Linked DNA regions of Homo sapiens. The gene in region 2 interacts genetically with the main gene of each other region. Each region holds a gene or a part of one and is shown on either strand. Other genes may lie near its edges. The genes, in order: ARID2, STK11, DHX35, SLC25A33, SLC30A9, FBXO41 and RPRD1B.

The links.
Region 1: changes in STK11 (region 2) and ARID2 together harm fitness more than expected from each alone (negative genetic interaction), as found in Homo sapiens cells (one large-scale study listed by BioGRID).
Region 3: changes in STK11 (region 2) and DHX35 together harm fitness more than expected from each alone (negative genetic interaction), as found in Homo sapiens cells (one large-scale study listed by BioGRID).
Region 4: changes in STK11 (region 2) and SLC25A33 together harm fitness more than expected from each alone (negative genetic interaction), as found in Homo sapiens cells (one large-scale study listed by BioGRID).
Region 5: changes in STK11 (region 2) and SLC30A9 together harm fitness more than expected from each alone (negative genetic interaction), as found in Homo sapiens cells (one large-scale study listed by BioGRID).
Region 6: changes in STK11 (region 2) and FBXO41 together harm fitness more than expected from each alone (negative genetic interaction), as found in Homo sapiens cells (one large-scale study listed by BioGRID).
Region 7: changes in STK11 (region 2) and RPRD1B together harm fitness more than expected from each alone (negative genetic interaction), as found in Homo sapiens cells (one large-scale study listed by BioGRID).

Annotation. Positions count from the first base shown.
Region 1 is NC_000012.12:45,900,706-45,904,205, reverse strand, and holds part of ARID2 (AT-rich interactive domain-containing protein 2), read right to left. Parts: intron 1-3,500. UniProt on the Homo sapiens protein: Involved in transcriptional activation and repression of select genes by chromatin remodeling (alteration of DNA-nucleosome topology). Required for the stability of the SWI/SNF chromatin remodeling complex SWI/SNF-B (PBAF).
Region 2 is NC_000019.10:1,219,278-1,222,777, forward strand, and holds part of STK11 (serine/threonine-protein kinase STK11), read left to right. Parts: intron 1-46; coding exon 47-136; intron 137-1,095; coding exon 1,096-1,228; intron 1,229-1,303; coding exon 1,304-1,440; intron 1,441-1,935; coding exon 1,936-2,063; intron 2,064-2,671; coding exon 2,672-2,729; intron 2,730-3,500. UniProt on the Homo sapiens protein: Tumor suppressor serine/threonine-protein kinase that controls the activity of AMP-activated protein kinase (AMPK) family members, thereby playing a role in various processes such as cell metabolism, cell polarity, apoptosis and DNA damage response.
Region 3 is NC_000020.11:39,000,344-39,003,843, reverse strand, and holds part of DHX35 (probable ATP-dependent RNA helicase DHX35), read right to left. Parts: intron 2,115-3,500; coding exon 2,002-2,114; intron 1,073-2,001; coding exon 976-1,072; intron 96-975; coding exon 1-95. UniProt on the Homo sapiens protein: May be involved in pre-mRNA splicing.
Region 4 is NC_000001.11:9,577,465-9,580,964, forward strand, and holds part of SLC25A33 (solute carrier family 25 member 33), read left to right. Parts: intron 1-2,489; coding exon 2,490-2,770; intron 2,771-3,500. UniProt on the Homo sapiens protein: Mitochondrial transporter that imports/exports pyrimidine nucleotides into and from mitochondria. Selectively transports uridine, thymidine, guanosine, cytosine and inosine (deoxy)nucleoside di- and triphosphates by an antiport mechanism.
Region 5 is NC_000004.12:41,989,162-41,993,329, forward strand, and holds the start of SLC30A9 (proton-coupled zinc antiporter SLC30A9, mitochondrial), read left to right. Parts: upstream 1-1,368; 5' UTR 1,369-1,490; coding exon 1,491-1,599; intron 1,600-4,168. UniProt on the Homo sapiens protein: Mitochondrial proton-coupled zinc ion antiporter mediating the export of zinc from the mitochondria and involved in zinc homeostasis, zinc mobilization as well as mitochondrial morphology and health.
Region 6 is NC_000002.12:73,270,979-73,274,478, forward strand, and holds part of FBXO41 (F-box only protein 41), read right to left. Parts: intron 2,152-3,500; exon of another isoform or gene 2,037-2,151; intron 1,325-2,036; exon of another isoform or gene 1,209-1,324; intron 533-1,208; exon of another isoform or gene 1-532. UniProt on the Homo sapiens protein: Substrate-recognition component of the SCF (SKP1-CUL1-F-box protein)-type E3 ubiquitin ligase complex.
Region 7 is NC_000020.11:38,068,246-38,071,745, forward strand, and holds part of RPRD1B (regulation of nuclear pre-mRNA domain-containing protein 1B), read left to right. Parts: intron 1-3,500. UniProt on the Homo sapiens protein: Interacts with phosphorylated C-terminal heptapeptide repeat domain (CTD) of the largest RNA polymerase II subunit POLR2A, and participates in dephosphorylation of the CTD by RPAP2. Transcriptional regulator which enhances expression of CCND1.

The DNA.
Region 1 (3,500 bases), on a different chromosome or scaffold from region 2:
ACATCTAGCTTAACTATATCCTAAATGCCCCATTAGCCATAAAAGCTGTTTTCTAAAAACTTATCAATCTTAAATTTTCTACCCAAAAGATCACAATATTGATGTGGCTATCTATATAATGAGAGATTATAAAAGTGAGCATCATCTAGCTAAAAAAAAGGGATGCTGGGGGCTGAGAAAAATGGTAAAAATCACCCAGAACTGTGGGATGGATAAATGGACAGATATGTGATAAAGCAAGTATACTAAAATATTCATGGTAATAGCTAGGTGGCAGGTATAAAAAATTTCATTGCAAACATTTCAAATTTGCCTATGTGTGAAAAATTTTATATTAAATGTTAAAAAAAAATATCAGCCAGCATGAGATTACCCAGGAACCTTGGTGCCTTCATTAAAATAACTCCGAATAAAAGAAACTACAGGAGAAAAAAAGAGAAGATGAAGACACGTACATTTTGAATTAAAAAACACTGTAGAAAAGAAGTTTATGGAAAAGATGCAAAAATTCAAAATCAAAATTTAATGTAGGGACTGGAGTCACTTTTACTATAGTAAAGCAAAGGAAAAGAAATGAGCAAAAAATGAGACTGAAGAATAAACAGTTGGGCATCTTTTCATGTTTTTTGGGCCATTTCAGTTTTATGTAGTTTCCATATATACATACCATCACACACTCAAAAGAGTGGATAAAATTAAACATTTTAATTACAATACCAAATGTTGGCAAGTACATGGAGTAGCTGAGACTCTCATACATTTCTATAGAGTGTCAATTGATAAAATCATTTTGGAATTGGTTGGCATCATGTAGCAAACTTTTAACATCTTATGAGTCACCAATCCTTTGAAAACACTCAACAGAAATATGTTCCGTATATGGCCAAAAAACAGAATATGGTTTAGAATGTTTATAGCAGCATTACTCTTAATAGCCCCAAATTGGAAATAACCCATTTGCCCATCAAAAGCAGAGAAAAAAATACAATAATATGAATAAAATACTATCATGCAACAACATGAATCAATCTCAAAAATATAATGCTGAAAATAATATTGTATGATTTCACATATAGAAAGTTCAAAATCAGGCAAAATGAACCTCTGGTGTCACAGATCAGGATAGTGGTCCCTTATAGAGAGGAGGATGGAGTAAAGATTGGAGAGAACATGAAAGATTTCAACTGATATTGCTCTATTTCTTAACTTGGACAGATAGTTATATGAGTGGTTCAGTTTGTGATAATTCACTGAACTTTACACTTCTGTTTTATAAAATCTTTATGATTTTCTTTAAAATTTTATTTAACAACTTTTAAAATAAAGTATGAAATTTCTAAGATCTTTCTGGAAAAGAAAAATTAGTTGTACAAAAATTGATTTAAAAATTTACAAAACGCTTTGGGAGGCTGAGGCAGGCGGATCACGAGGTCAGGAGTTCGAGACCAGCCTGGCCAACATGGTGAAACCCCATCTCTACTAAAAATACAAAAAATTAGCTGGGCGTGGTGGCAGGAGCTACTTGGGAGGCTACTAATCCCAGCTACTCAGGAGGCTGAGGCAGGAGAATCGCTTGAACCCAGGAGGCAGAGGTTGCAGTGAGCCGAGACTGCACCACTACACTCCAGCCTGGGCAACAGAGCGAGACTCCATCTCAAAAAAAAAAAAAATTTACAAAATAAAAATAACTTTACAAAGTACAATCAGTTTTTCCCCACAATCAATGAATATTTTAACAAAGAAAGAAAAAAGACTTTAGTTTCAAAAAGTTAACAAAATCATATTTTTCAAAGTGATAGTCACATGTTAAAAAGTATTCTTTTATTTGAATATTGCATGGATAAAACTAGAAAGAATAAACTGAAATCACTAGGATGATTTTAAAGTAACTAATAATTTCCTTTTTGATATAAATGTTTAATTTTTTGAGGTTTTAAAAAATTAAGCACTCACTTTGTTTTGATATAAAACAAAACATGCCTAATTTGTTTTTTTATAAAATGATATTCTTTCAACTTCTAAATTCACATGTTAGTTTTTTGAGATGATTTAACAAAGAATAAATATTGGGTCACTCTAATATCCTTAACAGATAATAAAAATAATTTCTAAGCAACACTAGTAAAAACCATTTAGGATACAAATCAGCTTCTAAGAAAACAAGTTTAAACAAGTTTCTTTCCATTCCCTCCTCAAAACAGTACGAAGGGTAAAAGAAATTTATTTTTTGCTAGGCGTGGTGGCTCACGCCTGTAATCCCAGCACTTTGGGAGGCCGAGGCAGGTGGATCACTTGAGTTGAGGAGTTCAAGACCAGCTTGGGCAATATAGTGAGACACCCTCCCCCACCCCCCACCTTACAGAAAATTAAAAAATGAACTGTTGGGCATGGTGGCATATGCTTGTGGTCCCAATTACTCAGGAGGCTAAGGTGGGAGGATCACTTGAGCCCAGGAGGTTGGAGGCTGCAGTGAGCCATGATGGCCCCACTGAACTCCAGCCTGGGTAACAGAGCAAGACTCTTGTCTTGGGGGGCGGAGGATAAGCAAACCCCCAAATCCTCAGAAATTTGAGGAATTACAAGGAAAGAGTAACCATACACAGATTGGGAAAAAACTACAAAAGTAGAGGTGTTAATATCCTCAGAGAGATGAGAAGACACCACTAAGAACAGGATGTTATAAAATAGTAACAACTGGCAACCAATAACAAGCTCTTAAAAATTAAGGAAATTTCCGGCTGGGGGTGGTGGCTCATGCCTGTAATCCCAGCACTTTGGGAGGCTGAGGAGGGCGGATCACGAGGTCAGGAGATCGAGACCATCCTGGCTAACTAGGTGAAACCCTGTCTCTACTAAATATACAAAATATTAGCGGGGCATGGTGGTGGGCGCCTGTAGTCCCAGCTACTCCAGAGGATGAGGCAGGAGAATGGCGTGAACCTGGGAGGTGGAGCTTGCAGTGAGCCAAGATCGTGCCACTGCATTCCAGCCTGGGCAACGGAGCGAGACTCTGTCTCAAAAAAAAAAAAAAAAAAAAAAAAAAAAAAAAAATTAAGGAAATTTCCAAAAAATAGATTAAACAGAGAGAAAACAGAAAGCTAAAAGAGAAAAGAAAAAGAAACATACCAGAAAAGTTCCCATTACTGAAGGATATAAATCTCCAGATTGAAAGGACCCACCAAAATGAAATAATGACTTCAATGAAAACAACAACAAAACACCCACCGAAGACACATCATCATCAAGAAACCTCAGAATATTCAGAAATAAAGAGATCACAACAGTTTCTAGAGGGGGGAAAACAGATCACATACAAAGAAATGGGAACCAGAATGTCACTAGTCTTCTCAACAGCAAAGCTGGTGCTAGAATACACCAAAGCAATGCCCTCAGGTTTTTAAAGAAAAATGATTTTTCAATCTAGAATGTTATGTACAGCCAACAACTATCAAGAGTAAGGGTAGATTACAGACATTTTTAGGCATGTAGGGTCTTAAATG
Region 2 (3,500 bases):
CTGTGAGTGGGGCCGCCCCCTGAGCTGTGTGTCCTTAGCGCCCCACGTATATGGTGATGGAGTACTGCGTGTGTGGCATGCAGGAAATGCTGGACAGCGTGCCGGAGAAGCGTTTCCCAGTGTGCCAGGCCCACGGGTGCGTGCGCGGGGCAGGGGCCAGGGTGGGGCGGGGGCCGGGGGCCAGGCAGGGCAGGCTCCTTTCCGTGAGGCCACACTGCTTGTCCTGATATTCATTGACATGAAGGCCCAAGTTTTTTTGTTTTTTTGTTTTTTTGTGTTTTTTTTCGAGATGGAGTCTCACTCTGTCGCCCAGGCTGGAGTGCAATGGTGCGATCTCGGCTCACTGCAAGCTCCGCCTCCGAGGTTCACGCCATTCTTCTGCCTCAGCTTCCCGAGTAGCTGGGATTACAGGCGCCCGCCACCACGCCCGGCTAATTTTTTGTATTTTTAGTAGAGACGGGGTTTCACCGTGTTAGCCAGGATGGTCTCAAACTCCTGACCTCGTGATCCGCCTGCCTCAGCCTCCCAAAGTGCTGGGATTACAGGCATGAGCTACCACGCCCGGCCTTGTAAAGGCCCAAGTTTTTAAAAACAGTTTTGGGGTCCCCCATGTGTGGCATCCACAGGCAGGGCTGCTGCCAACCTCCCGCCTCCATCTTTGCTGGGCCTGCTGCCTGAGGCCAGTGGCCTGCTTCCAGCCCATCGCTGGCAGCCGCCTGCCCTGACCAGATCTCCTGGATGCAGGTCTGTGGCCTCAGAGTCAGGGCCCCTTGCTGCTGCAGGACCACAGGGGCAGGGAGGGGCCTGCTGTTCCAGCAAGACTTTGGGGTGCAGCCGGCCTGTGGCCCACAGGAAAATGAGACCTGTGGACATCCGGGGCCCTGCCAGACGTGGCTCGGCCGGACGAGGGTGGCCACTGCAGGCGCAGGTGTGGCTCCCTGCTGGACCTAGCCTTTCCTCTGTCCTGTGTGCCTGGACTTCTGTGACTTCCCAGCTGGGCCTGTGGTGTTTGGGAGGCTCCCAGGCAGCTGCAAAGGGGACCCCTGTGAGGGGCAGGGAGGCCTCGGCCCCAGGACGGGTGTGTGCTGCCCGCAGGTACTTCTGTCAGCTGATTGACGGCCTGGAGTACCTGCATAGCCAGGGCATTGTGCACAAGGACATCAAGCCGGGGAACCTGCTGCTCACCACCGGTGGCACCCTCAAAATCTCCGACCTGGGCGTGGCCGAGGTAGGCACGTGCTAGGGGGGGCCCTGGGGCGCCCCCTCCCGGGCACTCCCTGAGGGCTGCACGGCACCGCCACAGGCACTGCACCCGTTCGCGGCGGACGACACCTGCCGGACCAGCCAGGGCTCCCCGGCTTTCCAGCCGCCCGAGATTGCCAACGGCCTGGACACCTTCTCCGGCTTCAAGGTGGACATCTGGTCGGCTGGGGTCACCCTGTAAGTGCCCCGCCCCCCCGGGCACTCACCACACGCACACTCCGAGGGGCCTCTGCGTCTTGGGCAGCTGCCGGCCTGTGGGCGCAGGGCGTGGCCACCGGCCCAGACCCTCTCTGGCCACAGCCGCTAGGGGGTGCTTACTTTATGGAAATGTAACTCATACGGCAGATGGTGGTTCACCCGTGTGAAGTGCAGCCTGGCCCGTCAGGGATCTTCACAGAGTGGCACGGCCGACCCTCCTCCCAGAGCCCCACAGGGAAGCTGGGCGGGTGACAGCAGCTCCAGGCCCCTTCCCCGGGTGGGTCCAGAGGACACTCCCCTCCTACCCCGTAGCCTCCACTAGTGGAAGGTGGTGAAGACAGAGGTGTCCTTGAGTCCACAGGGCCTCTGGTCCAGCAGCCACGGGACGCCTCTGTCCCTGGGGTAGAGCTGGGGCTCCTAGGGCGTCAACCACCTTGACTGACCACGCCTTTCTTCCCTCCCCTCGAAATGAAGCTACAACATCACCACGGGTCTGTACCCCTTCGAAGGGGACAACATCTACAAGTTGTTTGAGAACATCGGGAAGGGGAGCTACGCCATCCCGGGCGACTGTGGCCCCCCGCTCTCTGACCTGCTGAAAGGTGGGAGCCTCATCCCTCTGCCCGCAGCCCCAGGGAGGCGGGGCTTTTGTGCAGAAATGTAGGGTTGGGGGTGTCAGGTGGGGGGCTATTGGCCCCGAGACCCCAGCAGGCATTGAGAGGACTGAGTGGAGAGGCCGACCTCCCCGCAGGGCCTGGTTTGCCAGGTCCCTCAGCTCCACCCTGCTTCTGGGCCCTGTTCACCCTCCGAACTCCCACCCCAGAGGGCAGTGCTGCCCTGCGCCTCCCCCAGCCCCACCCTCGGGGGCTCCCTGGCTTGCAGGGTCTGTCAGGGTTGTCCTGCTGCACTTCCTACGCATGGCAGCAGGTGGCACTGGCCGTCCGTCCATCTGCCCAGTGGCCTTGGGAGAACGGAACCGCCCTGGCCGTCCAGCCCAGCCCTGTCTCCCTGCCAGCCGCGCACAGGCTGTCCCCGGCATGTCCCAGGAGTGGAGTGGCCTCTGTCAGGGAGACCGCCTGTGCGCGGGGTCCCCCTTAGGAGCGTCCAGGTATCACCCAGGGCCTGACAACAGAGGCTGGGCAGGCGGGGACGGTTGGTGGGGTCTCAGGCCTGTGCCCAGCTGACAGGCTCCTCGCCGGCTTCTCCTCAGGGATGCTTGAGTACGAACCGGCCAAGAGGTTCTCCATCCGGCAGATCCGGCAGCACAGGTGAGCGGCCCCTGGGGGCAGTGGGGCCGAGGCTGCAGGGAGGCCGGCCATGTGGGCAGCTGGTTGAGCGGGCGCTAGAGCAGGGCGTGGTGGGGGTGCCAGGCTGGGCTGGGGCCAGACCCCGTGCAGCGCCCGCAGTTCTCGGGGCCCGAGTGGGGTCTCTGGGCAGTGTCCTGTTACCGGCCAGACCCAGGCGCCTTGTCCGAACTGGGGTCTGAGTGAGGACATGCGTCCGTCCCTGCCCTAGGCATGGAGATGCGCCAGGAAGGGCACAGCTGGTCCCAAACACTGGCGAGAGCCTCTCTTTTTCCCCTCCTCCTGGGGCTCCCAGCAGCAGGGTGTGGCTGGGATCCAGCCCAGGGCCCCCAGCTCCATGACAGGGAAGACAGAGCAGCGGACGGGGTCAGCAGGCCCCACAGTGCCGCCTCCCTCACTTCGTGGGCTCTGCTCCTCTGCACCAGCCCCTGGAGGCCCTTGAGCCGTCTGCTGGAGCCCCTCCGAGCCCCGAGGCCACCCACTGAGACCGGCTCTGGGAGTGGGAGTGTCCGGACCCCTGAGGCGCTGGTGCTGATTGTGCCTTGGGGGTCTCTGCACAGCTCGGGTCATCTGGGCGCCTGGCGGGGACTGGGGCTGCCCCCCGATAGCCTCCTGGGCTGGGATGTGCTCAGGGCCCCCCAGACCCCCTTCTGGCCTTTGCTGGCTTTGCAGCCAGCATCCATCTGGTGGGTGCTGGCTTCTGAGTGCCACCTGGGACACAGGCCTCAGGGTGGA
Region 3 (3,500 bases), on a different chromosome or scaffold from region 2:
TACATGGGGAGAACTCGGAGGTGTCTCTTCATCCCAGTGCGAGCTAGTGCTCGAGCCTGCTCGATGAGCATCGACACAACAGTTTCTACCTCTTCCTAAAGACGTTGAACCAGGAACCAAAGAAACCGAGATCAATTTAAAGCATGCTATTTTATCATACTGAAAGAAAATAAAAGTTGGGATCTGGACTTTAATTTTGGTCAGATTCAAGAATTTCAGTGCCGTCATGTTCCACTCTGGGATGGTATTTAATTAAATGCTAATACACAATGATGACAATGGGTGAAATTTTGCAACTACACTATTAGTTACTAAAAACTCGGTATGATCTGCAATGAATGGAAGAGTTCCCAATAAATAAAAACGATGACTATTTTACTCAGCATACATATACGGTGTCAAACAAGCATCTCATGCATATAGACAAGTTGCAGCATATAAAATCACTGTAAGCTTTCTCCAAAAAAGATTACTGAACCATGGAAAGTGTTTGGCAGTGGAAAAGATTACAGTTGGAGGGCAGGTCTGAATAGTGCTGGCCACCGTCAGCGAGCACTTGGGTCTGTTCAGTTGTTTTACCAGTAATATGGCCACTTATCACCTCCAGGATGAGCTGTAAAGGTGTCACTGGAAAAAGAGGTACACAGCAGCAACATGTGTGCAGGACATGGACCTAATGTAGTATCCAATTCTGGCAAACAAAATAGCCCTCACTCAACTACCTAGTTTATTTTGGAATCAGCTAATACATTTAAAAAAACATTTAACCCTCTGCAGACAGAACAGGCAGGGGCTAACGAGTCCCTGACAATCTAGATGGTAGATGAATGACATCAAATCAATTTTCTACACAATTATGGAACCACAAAATACAACAAAACATGAAATACATGACTGAGTAAAGTAACAAGGCTCTGTATTACTTTTGGTGCTGTCTTAACATGTCTATTCATCAGAGAAGTACAGTGGCATTACCTGGCCAGTAAGAAATGCTAAAACGTCTCCGTCTCCCTCTGTCTGGTGAATTTTCACCACAGTTTCGACAGTTGATTTGATATAATCTGGAACAGGACTGAAAAGACAAATGGGATGAATTCATCACTAGAATATGCTCATTAATTACAGATCAATTACCCTAATAATCTGGCAGCAAAGCTCATCAAAGTGAGTTTGGGCCTGCCCAGTAGGTAATTAGTACAGGATAAACAAAATAAATATTCATTTTTTTCAAATCTAATATTCAAGAATAATCCATAATTATATGTCAACTATGATTTTTAGCTTTATTTGGAAAGAAATAACATGATATACCCATACAAATAGATGTGCTATCTTTAGTATGCAAAGACATCAGACCAGTGAAAATCGGAAGCTGTGGTCCCAGTGCTGAAGCCCACGCTCTTCCCAGCCCATTTTCCCTCCTAACCAATAGCAGCATCTATGGGTCGGCTGGATGGCCCTGATGGATGAGCTCTCCAACAAAACGATTCAGAAATCAAGTCCACGACTCTGGATTTATCAGCCACTGGAACAGGCTCCTGGTCTTTTTTTGTCCAGTGACTAGTACAGGAATTAGGATGGCCCCTTCCTTGTCCAAGTAGGCTACTCCTAAAAATGCCAACTGGGCCTTCTCGCTAGGGATGTAGAGAACTGAGAGCCAAATGATTCAAATCACCAATACTGCCCCTGCTGACAGGCAGCCTTGTAAACCCCAGTTCTGAAAACTATCAAGCTTCCCTCCCCAAAACCTTTCACCACTTTTGCTCTCTCTGGCTGAGCTACTGGCCACAGACTTACGGAAACTTGCATGTCAGTGTGAACAGTTTAAACTAAATTCAGCAGTGATCCGGAGCAGGGTAAGAACATTCTAGACCAATGACTAGGGACACAAAACATGCTCCTCCCCATCCTTTAGAGTTGTGAGCAAATGCAGTTCTGACATTCTACATCAGAGGCTGAGTTTTCTAAACACCATCATCCAGAATTCAAGCATCATCAAACCTTTGTAGATAAAAGATATCCACCGGAAATGTTCTCCCTTCCACTGTAAGGATCACACATGTATCCCTTGCTGGATCACTGGTTTCATTTTGATTAAAGAAATCCCGGAATTTCTAAAAAGAAAAAAATTAATTCTTCATTTCTCTTAGAAAAAAAGGTTCGTAGCGATTCATGGAAAGAAAAAATAATATAAAACTTGCCAAAGACAGGTGAGTAGCAAGATTATATATGTGCAATACAGATTATGGGTTGCAAAATACATTTTTTAAATTCACATTTTTCTAACTGTAATTGTGGGGAATCACATTTCAATGACAGTGTCTTTACTAAAGTTTTAATAAAAATAATAAAGGTTAGATTTCAAAACTGCATTCAGCATAGCATCTGAGTTAACATGTAGCTTTAGTATTATTTATATTATTCCTATCCTCTGTATTTCATTTAAGCAAAAATTAGGTCAAAGGTGTGACTCAAGTTCAGTACAGGTTAGATGAGGTTGGTGGGTAACTCTATCTGGAAAACACAGATATGATCATTTGATAGGAAACTTTTCCTTCTGTGAACAGTAGGTGTGTTTCCGGCCCCATTGTTACTGGTTTTAGGCCACTTGATGGCAGGGATAGTGTCTTCTCCATCTTTACACGCCCTACAGTAGTGAGTGCGAGGCTTTGTATGGGGTAGGCCATCAATCATGTACTTCCCCAACACTCGTGCAGTACCCTGTTGGGAGAAGTGTCTCTTGGCAGTTTCTGCCAAACAGGTGTCCACATCCTATTTAATGGTACTTGACCACCACTTGCAGCCCACAAGGAGACCTGTCTTGAGGGCTCCAGCCAATGATGGGGGAAGGAAACGCCACCAAAGATCCTCTCTTGGGGAATGTGACCCTAAGGTACAAAGAGAAGCTGAGACTGAGAAGAGCTAAGTGACCATGCAGGCAGGCAAGTGAGCACCAGATGGGAAGCAGCTGGTGCCCACTGCAGAGGGGGCATGGATATCCCGTCGGGTGGAGTGCTCCATTATTTGAATCTGGGTGCCCTTTCCATTCCCCACCTCTACTCATTTCCCTGAGGCCTGGCTACATAACTACAAAGCTTGTCTTTATTTCCCTATGTACCTTTACAAAACATGCCCATCCTGCTCCAGGAAACCCAGGAGCCCAGGAGCTGTGCTAACGAATGGCATCAAACGCTAAGTGAAGGGGCTCTGAGGGGTACTTTTAAAAGAGTAAACTGGATTTAACCACAAAATACAGGGATGTTATATATTAACCTCAAAATTGAGAAGAATAAGCACAGACATCAAAGTGCCTCATGTCAACAAAACTATGTTTTGCTATGCAGAATTCCACACAGTACTCCTGTTCACTTTCTTTTGGGTAAATTCCCTTCAAGTTGCTTCAGCCTTCCTGCATCCCTATGACATGCACAGCACAGGTACACTAGAAGTGACATACAAACAAGTGGGAACAGACACCCCATGCCCCAAAAGAGTAAACA
Region 4 (3,500 bases), on a different chromosome or scaffold from region 2:
TAAGACTCCATCTCAAAAAAATGAAAAAAGGAAAAAAGAAAAGAAAGCATGGTTAGTTCTGGGGAGCCGTAAGACAGGGAGTGTAGTTGGCGTGTAGTACGTGCATCTGCGCTGGAGAAGGGAGTTATGGAAGAATAAGGCTGGAGGAGCAGGGGAGCCCGATCCTTCCCAGGCCTGAAAGGGAGTTTGGAGTTGGGCTTTGAGGGCAGTGGAAAGTCATCAGAGCAGTGGTCCTCAGGGGAAATGGAGGATGGAGGTAGGGGGTGCCCTCCAGGGGACATTCAGCATTTAAGTTTGGAGACATTTGAAGTTGCCACAACTTAGGTGAGTGTTTTTGGTGCCTAGTGTGAATAGAGGCCGGGATGCTGCTAAACCCTACAAGGCACATGACAGCCTGCTTCTCCCCAAACTGAATAGTTTAGCCCCAAATGTGAATAGCGCCAAGGGTGAGAAACTCTGGATGTTTTGTTTTGTTTTGAGACAGAGTCTTACTCTGTTGTCCAGGCTGGAGTGCAGTGGTGCATCTCAGCTCACTGCGAGCTCCGCCTCCCGGGTGCACGCCATTCTCCTGCCTCAGCCTCCCGAGTAGCTGGGAAGTGCCCGCCACCATGCCCGGCTAATTTTTTGTATTTTTTAGTAGAGACGGGGTTTCACCGTGTTAGCCAGGATGGTCTCGATCTCCTGACCTCGTGATCTGCCCACCTCAGCCTCCCAAAGTGCTGGGAATACAGGTGTGAGCCACCGCACCCGGCCTCTGGATGGTTTTAAGCACGGGAGTTGCATGGTTGGATTTGTGTTAGAAAGGTCACTGCCGCTAAGGAGCGGGAACAGTCTATGCGGAGATAATAAAGAAGGGAGAGAGGCCAGCTGAGACTGAAGCCCAAGGGGCCCCAGGTCTGCGCCCGCTCGGAGGGGTCTGTGATGTGTGACCGGTGCACACCTAACTACACTCATCTGGTGGCTCACTCTTGCCTTGCAGCCAGGCAGTTCATAAATGCTTTTTGTCCTGGGGTAGGAGCCTCTAAACCTCATGGTTTTCATTTGCTGTTTTATTTTGATGTTTTATGATTTTATAAATTTAGCAATAATAGAATCTATTTGGAGACGAGTGTGATCAGAAATCTAATAAGTAGCCTCACCAACAGGTTGGAATGTTCCTATTTTTCTTTCTTATTATTTACTTTTTTGTAGAGATAGAGCCTCACTACATTGGCCAGGCTGGTCTTGAACTCCTGGCCTCAAGCAGTCCTCCCGCCTTGGCCTCCCAAAGTGCTGGGATTACAGGTGTGAGCCACTGCTCCCAGCCCTTGTGATCATCCTTTACCTTTAACTTAGTCCTGTTTTCCACTGAAAGCATTCCCTGTGTCTCACGGCCTTGTGACTTAATCTAGCAGATATACCGTGGTCAGCTATCTGGATTGTTGTCCTGATTGTTTTGCAGTTGTAGTTCCTCTGTGATGAGCCTTACTGCTCCCTGCAGCTCTTTCTAAAATTAGGTCAAATGCTAATGTTTTTATGAACATGTTTCTATGACTCTTGATACAGATGTAGCTAGTGTTCTGTGGGCCTGTCAGGTGTGCCAGCTACTTGGTCTGGCCTCACAGTGGGCTGGAGGTCAGCTGACAACAGTACAAAGATATGTGGGAAAAACTCTCCTCAAACCATGTTTTTCCTCCACTGTCACACCACAACAGTCATTGACACAGAAGATGACTTCTGTGACCAAATGTGTAGGGGGTTTTCCCCACACACACCAAACAGCGGACACCAGCTGGGTGTCCTCTCATTCACTTCCGACACTGTCTACCAGGAGACAGCCCCACAGATTGGGGGCTCAGTCCCCAGGACTGCCCACCCCCCGCCCACCCACTTACCCACACACCAGTTGTATGTCTGGGCCTCCAGAGCTTCTGAACGACCAGCTTCAAGTTGGGGTTCCCATGACCCTCTCTTTGGATTCTATTAATGTGCTGGAGTGGCTCACAGAACTCAGGGAAACACTTAATGTTTACTGGTTTGTTATAGAGGACATCGCAAGGATACAGAAGAAGAGACAGGTAGGGCCAGGTACAGAGTAAGGGGCGTGGAGCTTTCATACCCTCCCCGGGGGCCACCCTCCAGGAGCCTCCATGCGATCAGCTCTGGAAGCTCCCTGAACCCTGTCCTCTTGGGTTTTTCTGGAAGCTTCATGTCAGCAGCATTCCTTCTCCCAGAGATAGGAGGGGACTCTCATGGAGTAAGACCAACAAGGTAAGGACATTAGAGGATGGCCTTGGGGCAGGTGAAAGGAGATCAAGGGACTGTCAGAGGCTGCCCCTGCGGCCTCACACACCCCACATAACGAAAGACAAGGGCTATGAGAGTTAGGAGCCAGGAAACAAGTATCCTAACACCATAAGGAAGACCCGTACCTGTTCTCCTACTGTGTGATGTCTGTGTTCCACCATGATATGTCTCCTTAACAGCCTGTGTTGGTCTCTTTTATGCAGAGTGAGGGGCTCTAAGCAGATGAATACACTCCAGTGTGCTCGTTACGTTTACCAGACCGAAGGCATTCGTGGCTTCTATAGAGGATTAACTGCCTCGTATGCTGGAATTTCCGAAACTATAATCTGCTTTGCTATTTATGAAAGTTTAAAGAAGTATCTGAAAGAAGCTCCATTAGCCTCTTCTGCAAATGGGACTGAGAAAAATTCCACAAGTTTTTTTGGACTTATGGCAGCTGCTGCTCTTTCTAAGGGCTGTGCCTCCTGCATTGCTTATCCACACGGTATGTTTTGCTTTTGTTCTTCCAGAGCAGTAAAACAGCTGTCACGTTTGTTGTTTGTGGGTATATCTAGACTTCTGAGGCGCACATTGAGGCGCAGGATCCCTGCAGGTAAGGTCAGTGAGTATGAGGGAAACAGCTCTAACCGCATGGACAGAGGTCACGTGAGTGGTGGGAACTCGACCTTACTCAAATCCAGCTGATTATAGCCAAAACTTGTTGTGCAGAAACGCAGGTCCTGGGTTGCTGAACTTTTGCTGTTTTCAAGGAAGCTAAAAATCTGGATTGTATTTAATATTCCTTGAATCAAAATGATAATATGGGAGCCAAACTTACTCAGCCTCGGCGGGGCACGGTGGCTCACGCCTGTAATCCCAGCACTTTGGGAGGCTGAGGCGGGCGGATCATGAGGTCAAGGGATTGAGACCAGCCTGGCCAACATGGTGAAACCCCGTCTCTACTAAAAATACAAAAATTAGCTGGGCGTGGTGGCGCACGCCTGTAGTCCCAGCTACTTGGGAAGCTGAGGCAGGAGAATCGCTTGAACCCGGGAGGTGGAGGTTGCAGTGAGCCGAGATCAAGCCACTGCACTCCACCCTGGCAACAGAGCGAGACTCTGTCTCAAAAAAAAAAAAATAATAATAATAATAATAATAATAATAATCATTCAGCCTCTATTTCTAATGGAGCCTTAAGGCTACTTTGGGTAAGTTTATTTTTTTGAGTTATAGAA
Region 5 (4,168 bases), on a different chromosome or scaffold from region 2:
CCAAAGCCATTTTAAGAATCCAAAATATGAGATTAGTTTTGTTCAAAAAGAATTATCCATAAAAGTTAATAGATGTTTGCATAGTTACCATAAAATAAGAGGTAAGCCTTTATGTATTTTTACTTCATAAAGTTGAATTTCTATTAAAATCTATTACAAGAAAGGGAAAGTAACTTTCCAGTAATATTCAGATTTTTTAGTAATATTGAGCCTACATTTATGGGACATCATTTTTTAATGTTTGTCCACTGAATATTTTAAGTTATGTTTGTCATAGGAAATTAAATTTGCTTACCATTCTTAACGATAATCTCTTTCCTCATTTGGTTATACTTATCTCAATTAGTATAAGAGACTTGTTGATTTTTTTAAAAATTAAGGACATACTAAATTTCCCCGAGATAGTTATTTTGCAGTAATATAGATAAGCGACTCAGATTAACTTTAAAACAAACCACCATACATTCCATTCAATTTATTTTTGCCAGGCATTGTTTTAGCGGCTTTATACAGCCATGTACAAAATAGACAAGATTCCAGCATCATGATGCTTATTTTCTATTCTAGGACACAAAATAGAAAAAAAAATCTCAAATAGTGATAAGCGTTTTGAAGAAAAGTATATAGGACAGCCGGGTAGAGAATGACCAGGACTACCATAGCTAGGGTGGTCAAGGAAGGCCTCTCTTGAGTTTGAGTTAAGAGCTGAATGAGCATGGCAGAGAGAAACAGTTAACGTGGATACTGTTCAGGTTTCTTTCTCCCTGGGACCAAAATGTTTCGAAGTCTGCATACCTCCGTTTACCCTAACTTGTCATGAACATAAAACCTCTTATATTGCAGGCAAAAATCTGAGGTTCACAGATTAGTAGGGCAAGTAGCTGATTCCGAAGTGTGTACTTGCCTTTATGATACTGGATACACACTGGTGTTAACAAGGAGAACGATGTACGTGGCAGACGTTCGGAGAGTACTGGACATGTTGGTTCTAATTTGGGTTTATCCTGGCAGGCTCTAGGTAGAGAGGCTCAGAAAACCTGCGTCCATCCTTCCCATCTTTCCTCCCATTTCCGAAACCACGGCCCCGGTTTCGAGTCCAGAAAAAAAGGAATAAGTAGAACTCCCAAAGGACAGCTTTCCTGGCTGAACAAGATGTAAACAGTTTACGTGATTTCCAACCAAGCGCAAAAGTACAGGTGCAAAAGAAGACGGCAGACACCAAACTTCCCCTGCAGCCACGCCCTCCCCACTTTGGGAGTCTGGGTCCCCGGGAAGGAAGGCCTCCCTATTGGTGCTCAACGTGTTACGTCACTTCCGCTACCTCCACGGCAGGCGTCGCTAAATGACGTTGCCGTTTCCGGGTCACCCAGGCAGCTTGTGGCGGCGAAGCCATCGGTGTTCGCTGATGTCCAGTCTATGGAGTCAGTTGGTACCGGTGGCGGCGCGGAGGCAGAAGGCGGTGTCCGAGTAGGGGCCTCTGCCCCACCAGGATGTTACCCGGCTTGGCCGCCGCCGCGGCCCACAGATGTAGCTGGTCCTCCCTGTGCCGGCTCCGTCTGCGATGCAGGGCGGCGGCCTGTAATCCCAGCGACCGCCAGGGTGAGTGTCCCGCGCTGGCCGCTGGCTCCGTAGAAGCCGAACTGGAGGGCCAGGCTGGGCTCGGCGCCTCGCCTGGGGCAATTCGCCCACTTGCCTTTCGCCAACCTCAGAACCTTCCTTTCTGGCCTCCGCCTTTCCAGTTCAGCCTGCGCAGCCCGCGGGGGTCCTGACAGGTCTCTGACTCTGATGCCTTCTGCAGCCCTAGCATGGCCCCCGCGGGAACTTGTGGGCACCTCGCGGGCCGGATTGCACCTCTGAAGCCTACCGCTTTGTACCAAACAAAATGTTACGTGCGCATCGCGGTGTCCCGCGGTTACTCACCTCCGCGGTTGGAAATTGCGGACTCCGCAAAGTTCCAGGGTCTTTGGAGCTTTCCAGCGCACCTTCATTTAGCACTTGGTTGAGATTTTCTTGGCCTTCTTTTTCTTACTCTCCCAACTTATTTTCTTAAATTTTCTAAAAGGAAGGAGGGGTGCTACTCACTACGGATCTTTTGGAAGAAGTACGAAAGTATCCGACAATCATTGAATGAACCCAGTTTGGGTCCGAAAAACAAAGAAACTCTTCAGTTCGGCTGAGCAGTCTTTTTGGTGAAAAGGTGGCAGTTGTAGTGGTAACCCAGAAAAAAAGGTGGTTGAAGAGAATTTTCGTCTCTCTCAACATTCTTTTCTGACTCAAATTTAAATGGTTTGAGAGTTTCCAAAATAACATTGAACTAATCAGGCTTACCTTCGTTTTTGCCGTAGCTTGACACACATTGCTTGACACTGAGAACTGATAGGATCTCTGAGGGAGAAGACAGAACTAAGTCCACCCTTAACCTAATCCCTCCATTCTTGGGATGCAGAGAGTATTTACCGAAACATTCATGTTCGAAGCCAGGTGTGGTGGTGCGCTCCTGTAGTCCAGCTACTCGGGAGACTGAGGCAGGCAGATCTTTTGAGCCCAATAGTTCTAGGCTAGCCTTGGCAACATAGTGAGCTGTCTGTAAAAACATAGGTTTGAAAAAACCTGTAACATGTTCGTGACCTCCTGAAAGAAGTCGGAAGTTGCAGTCATTCGAGATTTTATGTAATATAAGCTATAGTAACTATGCTGTGGATATAAATTAGAATATATTCGTATCTTTTATTTGCAATAAATGTAAAGCTGAATCTTAGAATTTCAAACGGATAAATTTTAACAGCACTATTCCCAGGGCTTTTTTGGTAGTGATAGAAAAGTGTAACTGTTGAGTTTTTCCATATTGGCAATATACTGCCAGGTTCCCTTATGGACAGAATGAATCATCGGCTGGGTGCAGTGGCTCATGCTGCTAATCCTCAGGAAGATTGTAAACCTTAGGACGCTGAGGTGGGTGGATCGCTTCAGCCCAGGAGTTCCAAGACCAGCCCGGGCAACATGGCAAAACTGCCTCTCTACAAAAAATTAGCCTGGTTTGGTGACGCGCGCCTGTAATCCTAGCCTGTACTCAGGAGGCTGAGGTGGGAGGATCGCTTGAGCCCAGGAAATTGAGGCTGCAGTGAGCCTTGAGCATGCCAGTGCACTCCAGCCTGGGTGACAGAGTGAGACCTGTCTCAAAAAAAAAAAAAGAAAAGAAAAAGAAAAATGAATCATACGTTTATACTGTACTCCAGAATCCCCAAGTAAGTTTCTAACACAATTGTTTCTATTGACCAAGCAATTTTGGCATTTTACACTGAAATTACAGTGGCTGTTAAATTTAGTCTAAACTGCCCTTTAAGTGTTGGCAAAAAGGAGAAGAAACAGTGTAATTTGTAATCCCTCTTCTGTGTAGCTGTCATTATGTTGAAAATTATGTATTCTTTGTCTCATCTGTCTGTGAAACACAGATAATTATTACCTACCTTAGTGGTCAAAATGACTTTGCAAAGTTGTTTGGAATGTTTATTACTACAAAAAATTAAAATTTTTTTTACACTTAAAAATGCTTAGTAGGTTTTTAAAAATAACTTTGTGAAAATTTAGTTTCAGTAATGAAGCATTTCTTAAAAGGGCAACCATTATTATGGCAAAATTTAAAAATCATTTAGAAAAAGAGTACTATTTAAATTGGATGCATGTGAGAAGACTATTTGAAGAACTTTTGGAGAAAGAAAATCTAAAAACAGTTGTTTTTATTTGTCTAGAAGTAAGGTTTAGTTTATGCTTCTAAAATGCCTGTGGCTGGGAAAAGCTTATAAAGCATAAGGAGAGGAGGAAACCTTGAGGGATTGCTTGAATACTTAAAAATGAGGAATGCCTTTAAAGGCAAAATAGAAACTGTCTAAAAGAAATATGAGAGCCCTGTTTGTAATTTTGAGTTGTCTGATAGCCACATTAAAAAAAGTAAAATTAAAGATGAATTAATTTTAATATATCCTAGAATTAATTTTAATAACGAAATTTATATATTTTAATAATAAAATATATAAAATTTAATACTATTTTATTAAGTATATTCAAAATATTTCAACATGTAATCAATATCAAAATTATTGAAGTATTTTACATCATCTTTTTGTACTGTCTTTAAAACCCAGTGAGTATTTTACACTTTCAGCACATC
Region 6 (3,500 bases), on a different chromosome or scaffold from region 2:
CATGAGCTTTCCTGTCTGGATTTTCCCCTGGGTTCTGCAACTTCCTGTTCTTGCTGCCTTCCTAAACGTCCTCATTCCCTGAGGTCTGCCTCTGGAGCCCTCCATCTCTATTCTCCCCCTAGGAAGGCAGTCAGCTTCCCTCACACAGGTTTACTTGCACCTGTAAGCTCTACTTCTCCATCCTGACCTGCCGCATAGTTGTGTTGCCTTCTGGCATTTCCACAGGATGTATGGGTGGATGTCTGTTCCTTTTGCCAGCCCAGCATCCAGTCCTCCTCCTGGTAACAGCACCCTGCTTTGACCATAGGGAACCATCCTTCCCCACTTTCTCAGTCCACATGGTCTTGGGGATATGACATAGACCTGGCAAATCAGTCGTGGGGTAAACATAGAGCACCAAAGTTGAGCCAGTGAGCCCCAGGACTGTTCTGGAATGACTGAGGGAAAGCATTGTCTTTGGGATCAGGTTTCTAAGCTGATGGAGAAGGCCAGAGCTGCTGGTGCCATCCTTTCTCCTTTTGGGAGGAGACACCTGGGAATGAAGCCAACCCAAAGAAGCAAAACTTAGATGGAGAAACACATTCCTCACAGACACTGTTTGAGAGCCTGGCCTGTTCAGTTACACAAGCCAATCAATTCTGCACTCCCCCCCCCCCAACTTCTTTTTTTTGAGATGGAGTCTCACTCTTTCACCTGGGCTGGAGTGCAGTGGTGCAGTCTCGGCTCACTACAACCTCCCCCTCTGAAGTTCAAGCGATTCTCCTGCCTCAGCCTCCCGAGTAGCTGGGACTACAGGCATGTGCCACCACGCCCAGCTAATTGTTGTATTTTTAGTAGAGACAGGATTTCACCATGGTGGCCAGGCTACTCTCAAACTCCTGACCTCAAGTGATCCACCTGCCTCAGCCTTTGAGTGTTGGGATTACAGGTGTGAGCCACTGCACCTAGCCCCTATTTCCCTTTTTTGCTTAAGCTAGTTACAGTTGGATCTGTGTTACTTGCACCCAGAAAATATCCTAACCAAGAAATTAGAATCAGAGATGGAAATTTTTAATAGATCCACAAAAGAAATTAGCTGAACTAAGGAGGGGGACATAAGCTGGCACTACTTCCCCCATTCCCCACTCACAGGTTGGTGAACAGAGCAGCAGCAAAGCAGATGATTAAACTGTCTCCCACCATCCCTGGAGCTCAGGCCATGTACCTACCATGGCTGGAACATTAGGGGATTTGTAGAAAAATGTCAGGATGTTGGGAGTGTCTTTCCAACGGCCTCAGTAAGGTCCAACAAGCAAGAGACACACTCTGGTTGAAAGGAGCCCATCTGAAAGCAGAGAGGAAGAAAATTTGGGCTTGCCCAGAGAGGCCCTTTCTGCCTGCAGCCAGTAATTCAATATGGCTGAGAGTCAGATAATTAAGAGCCAGTTCTTTGCTTCAAGCTAAAGTCAGCTCAAGCGAAGACAAAGAGGCTGGGAACTAAGAGGGAGATAAGCCTGGGGCCTGACAGGTACTCAACTCCTTGGGCCCTGCTGAACCCTTCCTGCTGTGCCCTCCCAGCTGGACAGAAGCTTCCATTATAAGCAGCCTTCCATTGGGATGCAGCTTCAGTGAGAAGGGGCAGATGACCTTTTGCCTCCCTCCCCAAAGTTGGAGTTTGCTTTGCCCTGTGGCAGAGGCCCAGTTAGAGGCTGCAGAACCAAGGGCTCCTGGGATGGGCAGAACACTGAGGCCTGTTGCTAAGAGATAACCCCTCCCTCCTTCTACACCACCACCAGGGACTTCATTCAAGAACCATAACTTTCATAGAGGTCTCTAGCTTTGGTTAATAGCTCTGGGGATAACCAAATGCAAACTGACTGAAAAGCCTCCCAGGGATTAAGGGGATTGTATTGCCAGAAAGCCCCCACAAACCAAAGGATTGCTCAGCCCCTATGGTTGCCCTGAACCTCCCCAAACATGCACCCTTCAATGCCCCTCTCACAGAGACAGCAAAATCAGAGCAGTGAGATTGGTGTACCAGGAAACCTCTTCCTCACCATTCAGTCAAGCATGTGGACCACGGTCCAGGTTTTTTTCCTCACCCCCCTCTTCAACTAGGAGGGTTTTTCTTCTTCCAGCTATACAGTTTTCTCTCCATCATTGTAGTTGGGCCTTAAATGGAAAGACCATGACCTTAGTACCTAACCAAACAAACAGCCCCTTGCCATTGCCAAGATGTTGAATTGGGGATAGATGTGGTAACTGGGTGAAAACTTGGAATGTCTCCTCCCAGAAGTGGGATAACTGTGCTTTAAGTTTGGTGAGGGATAGTTGCATTATGATAAACAGGAAAATATTTTTTAAAATTACACAGTAAAGGGGGTCTGTGTCGATCTTTGACATCTAAGAAGTGAAATACAGTGGACTTTTATTGTTTTTGCTGCCCGGCTCTAGTCCCTCTTTATTGTGAATTGATCCCCAATTTTCCCTTTGAGAACCATTGCCTGCACTTTGAATAGATTTGGGTAGGGCTGACAGCTTCCATTGGCTCCCAGGGAACACACATGACCTCAGTCTGTTCCATTAGAATCACAGTGGTCAGGTCAGTAATGGACTCATTTCTCAGTCTGGGCCGATACAGTCACTTCGGGAGCTGTGCTCAGTTGGTAGGCTGTGAGCCTGGAGCCTCTTGTGGCCATTTTTGCCCTGTCTTTGAGACAAAAGTAAAGGACCCCTGATGATATTTGAGCATCCACATCCAGATGTGCCTGAAGCTCTAACCCAGGACTTGACCATTGAGAAGGGCTGCAAATGTTTTTGTAGCTTTTATCATTTGGGTCGGTTGCCAGTCTCTAGTAATGAGACTCCAGACTAACACAATGGCCCACAGTGTCAAAAACAAATCCCAGACTTCTCCTCACCTACTACCCAGCACCCCTGTTTCCTTTGGTGTTACTGTCCTCCCAGCCACAGCACTGGCCATCTTGATTTTTCTCTCTGCTAACCATCAAGACCTACTGGTTTTTCCTTCCAAGTGCTTTCAACCCAACTGTTCTTTTCTCATGCTTTGTACTCTTCCAGGCCACAACCTCATCACATCTAGACTGCTGGCCCAGCCTTCAGTCCCGCAGCTCCATTCCATCTGTAAAGGCATCGGATTCCTCTGCTCAGACTCCTTCAAGGGCACCCCCATCCACTACCAACTGCAGCCAAACTCCTCAGCTTCACGATCTGGCCCCTGTGCTCTTGCCAATTTGAAACTGGAAAGTGGCCTGGCTGTTTCACTTGCATGTCCTTGATTGTGATGGCTGGACAGTTTTTCACACATACACTGGCCATTTCTATCTCTTTGGTAACTTGCCTGTGCACTACTTTGCTCATTTTCATACTGAACATTCATATTTTCTTATCGATTTACAAAAGCTTTTAATATTATTGATCCTGTGTCATTTATATACCTCAAATATTTTTCTCAAGTGTGTTGATTGGCTTTTACTTTTGTTTATGGTCTTTATTGATAT
Region 7 (3,500 bases), on a different chromosome or scaffold from region 2:
AGAAAGGCCCCACCACTGGAACCAACGTACAGAGTCTGAACTGAAGGTTCTTATCTCAAACCATGTCTCCGAGGCACATGAGCAGAACCATTTATTGTAAAAAATAGAGCCGATTTGCTGCATTAAAGAAAGCAAATGACTAGATACAGTATAAGGTTTTTTTCTGAGATGGAGTCTCGCTCTGTCACTCAGGTTGGAGTGCAGTGACGTGATCTCAGCTCACTGCAGCCTCCACCTCCCAGGCTCAACCAATCCCCCGTCTCAGCCTCCTGAGTAGCTGGGATTATAGATTATAGGCATGTACTACCACGCCCGGCTAATTTTTTTTGTTTTTAGCAGAGACAGAGTTTCACCATATTGGCCAGGCTGGTCTTGAACTCCTGACGTCAAGTGATCTGGCCGCTTCACAATATAAGATTTGAGAGATGGTTTTAGTTCTTTTCTTTATCCACGCTTGCTAAAAATTTAGGCAGTCTGCTCTCCTGAACCTAAGATTTTTCTCTCACATTCTGTAATAGACTGGTCCTGTCCCATCACATCCCTATGGTGGTGGCCGAACTTGATAAATGTATGCCCCTTGAAAGATGCGTGAATACTGTGAATTCCTTCAGATTGTCCAAAAGTCTCTCTGCGTGATGGGGCAGTACATAAAGTTTACCCACTTTTTTAACATTCATTTTTGTAACACAGCCAGTCCGTTTTAAAACTTCCAAATCAGAATGCTAATTAAATATTTTATTTTTTAATCCTTTCATTGCCTTCAGGATATACATAGATGAAATTCTCAGAACTCTTTGGAGAAGTAGTTATTTGCTTGCGAGTCTGTTTTCATCCCAAAGCTCTAATATACTTAGGTTTTGTGCTTTCCTTTTTAACTTTGTATCTTGCTTTATGTAATAAGCATCTTTTTCTCTTTCACTTGGGAATTTTATGTCGGTGGCTCCTGCATGTCAGGATAGGGCGTGTGATGATTCAGAGCCTAGGATGTAGGAGAGGGAATTACGGCTCAAAGTAGGAGATTGTGTTTCTTCCCTCGAGGAAATCATATTCTGGTATAAAAAACACAGGTGAACATAAAACCAAACCACTTGATCGTACATAATGTAGATTAAGGAGGCATTTGGCGGTTCTGATTGTGGTTTAAGGTAAGTCCAAACTTCCTGTCAGGCAATAAAACCTTTTTGTAAAAGGAACTAGCAGTTGAAGAAGAGAAGCATGTTTATAAATGGGGAGCAGTTAGACTGGACCAGACAGGTATCTGAAGAAAGACAAAGTCAGATGTGGGAAGGAGGTGCTGCAGACCACCAGTGGGAGATTAAGGTCTGTGCTCTTTAAGAAGCTACGTATTCATTCAGGGAGTCAGCAAAGCCTGTGCCAGCCAGATGTACAAAGATGGGCACGATGCACTTCTCCCCTCAAAGGGCTTATGCTCTAGTCAGGGGGAAATAGCAGCAAACAAGGGGTTAGGGTAGAATTCAAGATAGGTTGTCAGTAAGGAAAATATTCTCACTTGTGTCTACCTTGAAATAGACCAAGAAAAAAATGAAGATGCTAATAATAATTTGATCAGATGCTTATTAAAATTGTGAGAGTTATCAAATCATGGACAGTTTCTGAAACTGTAATGCCTTCAGCAGGTCTCCCAAAGTTTGCTAGACTGTATACTCTTTGAGTGCTCTCACAGTGCCAGGAACATATTTGTTCCTCAGTAAATACTTGTTCTGTGAAATCCATCACTTGATGTAACCTTTTTCTATAGAGAAAAGGGTTTTTTTTTAAGGTTGCATTAAAAGTGGCTTAACAAATCTGATTTAATGATTGGTTGTAAAGAATATGTTAGTACGGAAAGGTAACCATTTTTAGAAGTTTCTGTAGGTTTTCTCCTTTGTACTACTTTTCTTTTTTCCTTTAAGTAGAATTATGCTTTATTCTGAGATAATCATCTTTTTTTGTTTGTTTGTTTTTGACTTTTGCTTCAGGGTGTCATGATTGACTTTGGCCTATGATGTTGGCCCTTAAACACCAGGCAAGGGTGGAAGGAATGCTGCTGAAAATCTGTGGGTAATGTTTTTGTCATGAACATGAGAAAACCTAGAAATGGAGAAGGCACGTGGAAGGAAGCACAAATGGCAGCCCAAAGAGGAGGTTAGAGAATGTGGAGGGTATAGAAGAAAGCCCATTCAGAAAGGCAAAGGCCAAAGATACCAGAAAAGCCTTCCAGCTTCACTTCCAGAGCAAAGAGAAGCTTTGTTTGTGGTTGACAGAGGTGACTACATTACTCCCAGATGTCTGCTCAAAGCTCATAAGACATAGCGTGAGTGGGTTGGATAGGGTTCCTGTCTTGTCAGCGTGAATAAAGCATGATACAGACATGTTCTGTTAGCATGATCAGTGCATGTGGAAGAGTGTGTGTGTGAGAAAGAAACCTATTTGTACAAGTATTAAGGAAAGAAAAAAGGTCAGGAACCTGCAGTTTTCCCTTCTTAACTGTGATTTTTTTTTTTTTTTTTTTGAGACAGACTCTTGCTCTGTTGCCCAGGGCTAGAGTGCAGTAGAGCAATCTGAGCTCACTGCCTCCCGGGTTCAAGCGATTCTCGTGCCTCAGCCTCCCGAGTAGCTGGGACTACAGGCGCATGCCACCACACCCAGCTAATTTTTGTATTTTTAGTAGAGATGGGGTTTTGCCATGTTGGGCAGGCTGGTCTCGAACTCCTGATCTCAGGTGATCCACCTGCCTTGGCCTCCCAAAGTGTTGGAATTACAGGCATGCGCCTCCATGCCTGGCCTTAACTGTGAATTTTATTCAGATCATGGTGTCTGACTGTCAGCGATCTAGAACTGAAAGCAGATAGTCCTGTGTTGACCCACATGCCACATGGTGCACACACACAAAGATGATATGCCACACAGGGAAGAGCTCTTGAGAAATTTGTTCCAAGCTGCAGATTTATTGTTTTAGTTGAGGTGAAATTCATATAACGTAAATTAACCATGCACTTCAAAGTGCACACATTTTGGTGGCATTTAGTACGTTCACAGTATTGTATCAAGTTCCAAAACATAATTGTGTCTGGCTTCTTTCGGCACGATGTTTTCAAGATTCATCCCATGTTGTAGCATATATCAGTACTTCATCTCTTTTATGGTAGAACACTAATCTGTTGTATGGATGTGACACAGTTTATAACCTGTCTATGGACATTTGAGTTGTTGCCACCTTTTGGCTCTTATGAATAGTGTTGCTATAAACAGTCATGTGGAGGTTTTTGTGTGGCCATATCTTTTCATTTCTCTTGGTTATGTATAAATCTAGGAGTGGAATTGCTGGGTCATATGGTAATTCTATGTAACATTTTGAGGAACCATCAGACTGTTTTCCACAGCAGCTACATCATTTTACATCCCCACTAGCAATGTGCGTGGGTTCCAGTTTCTCCACATCCTCATCAACATTTGTTATTGTCTCTTTATTTTCGACAACCTACATGTGCAGGTTTATC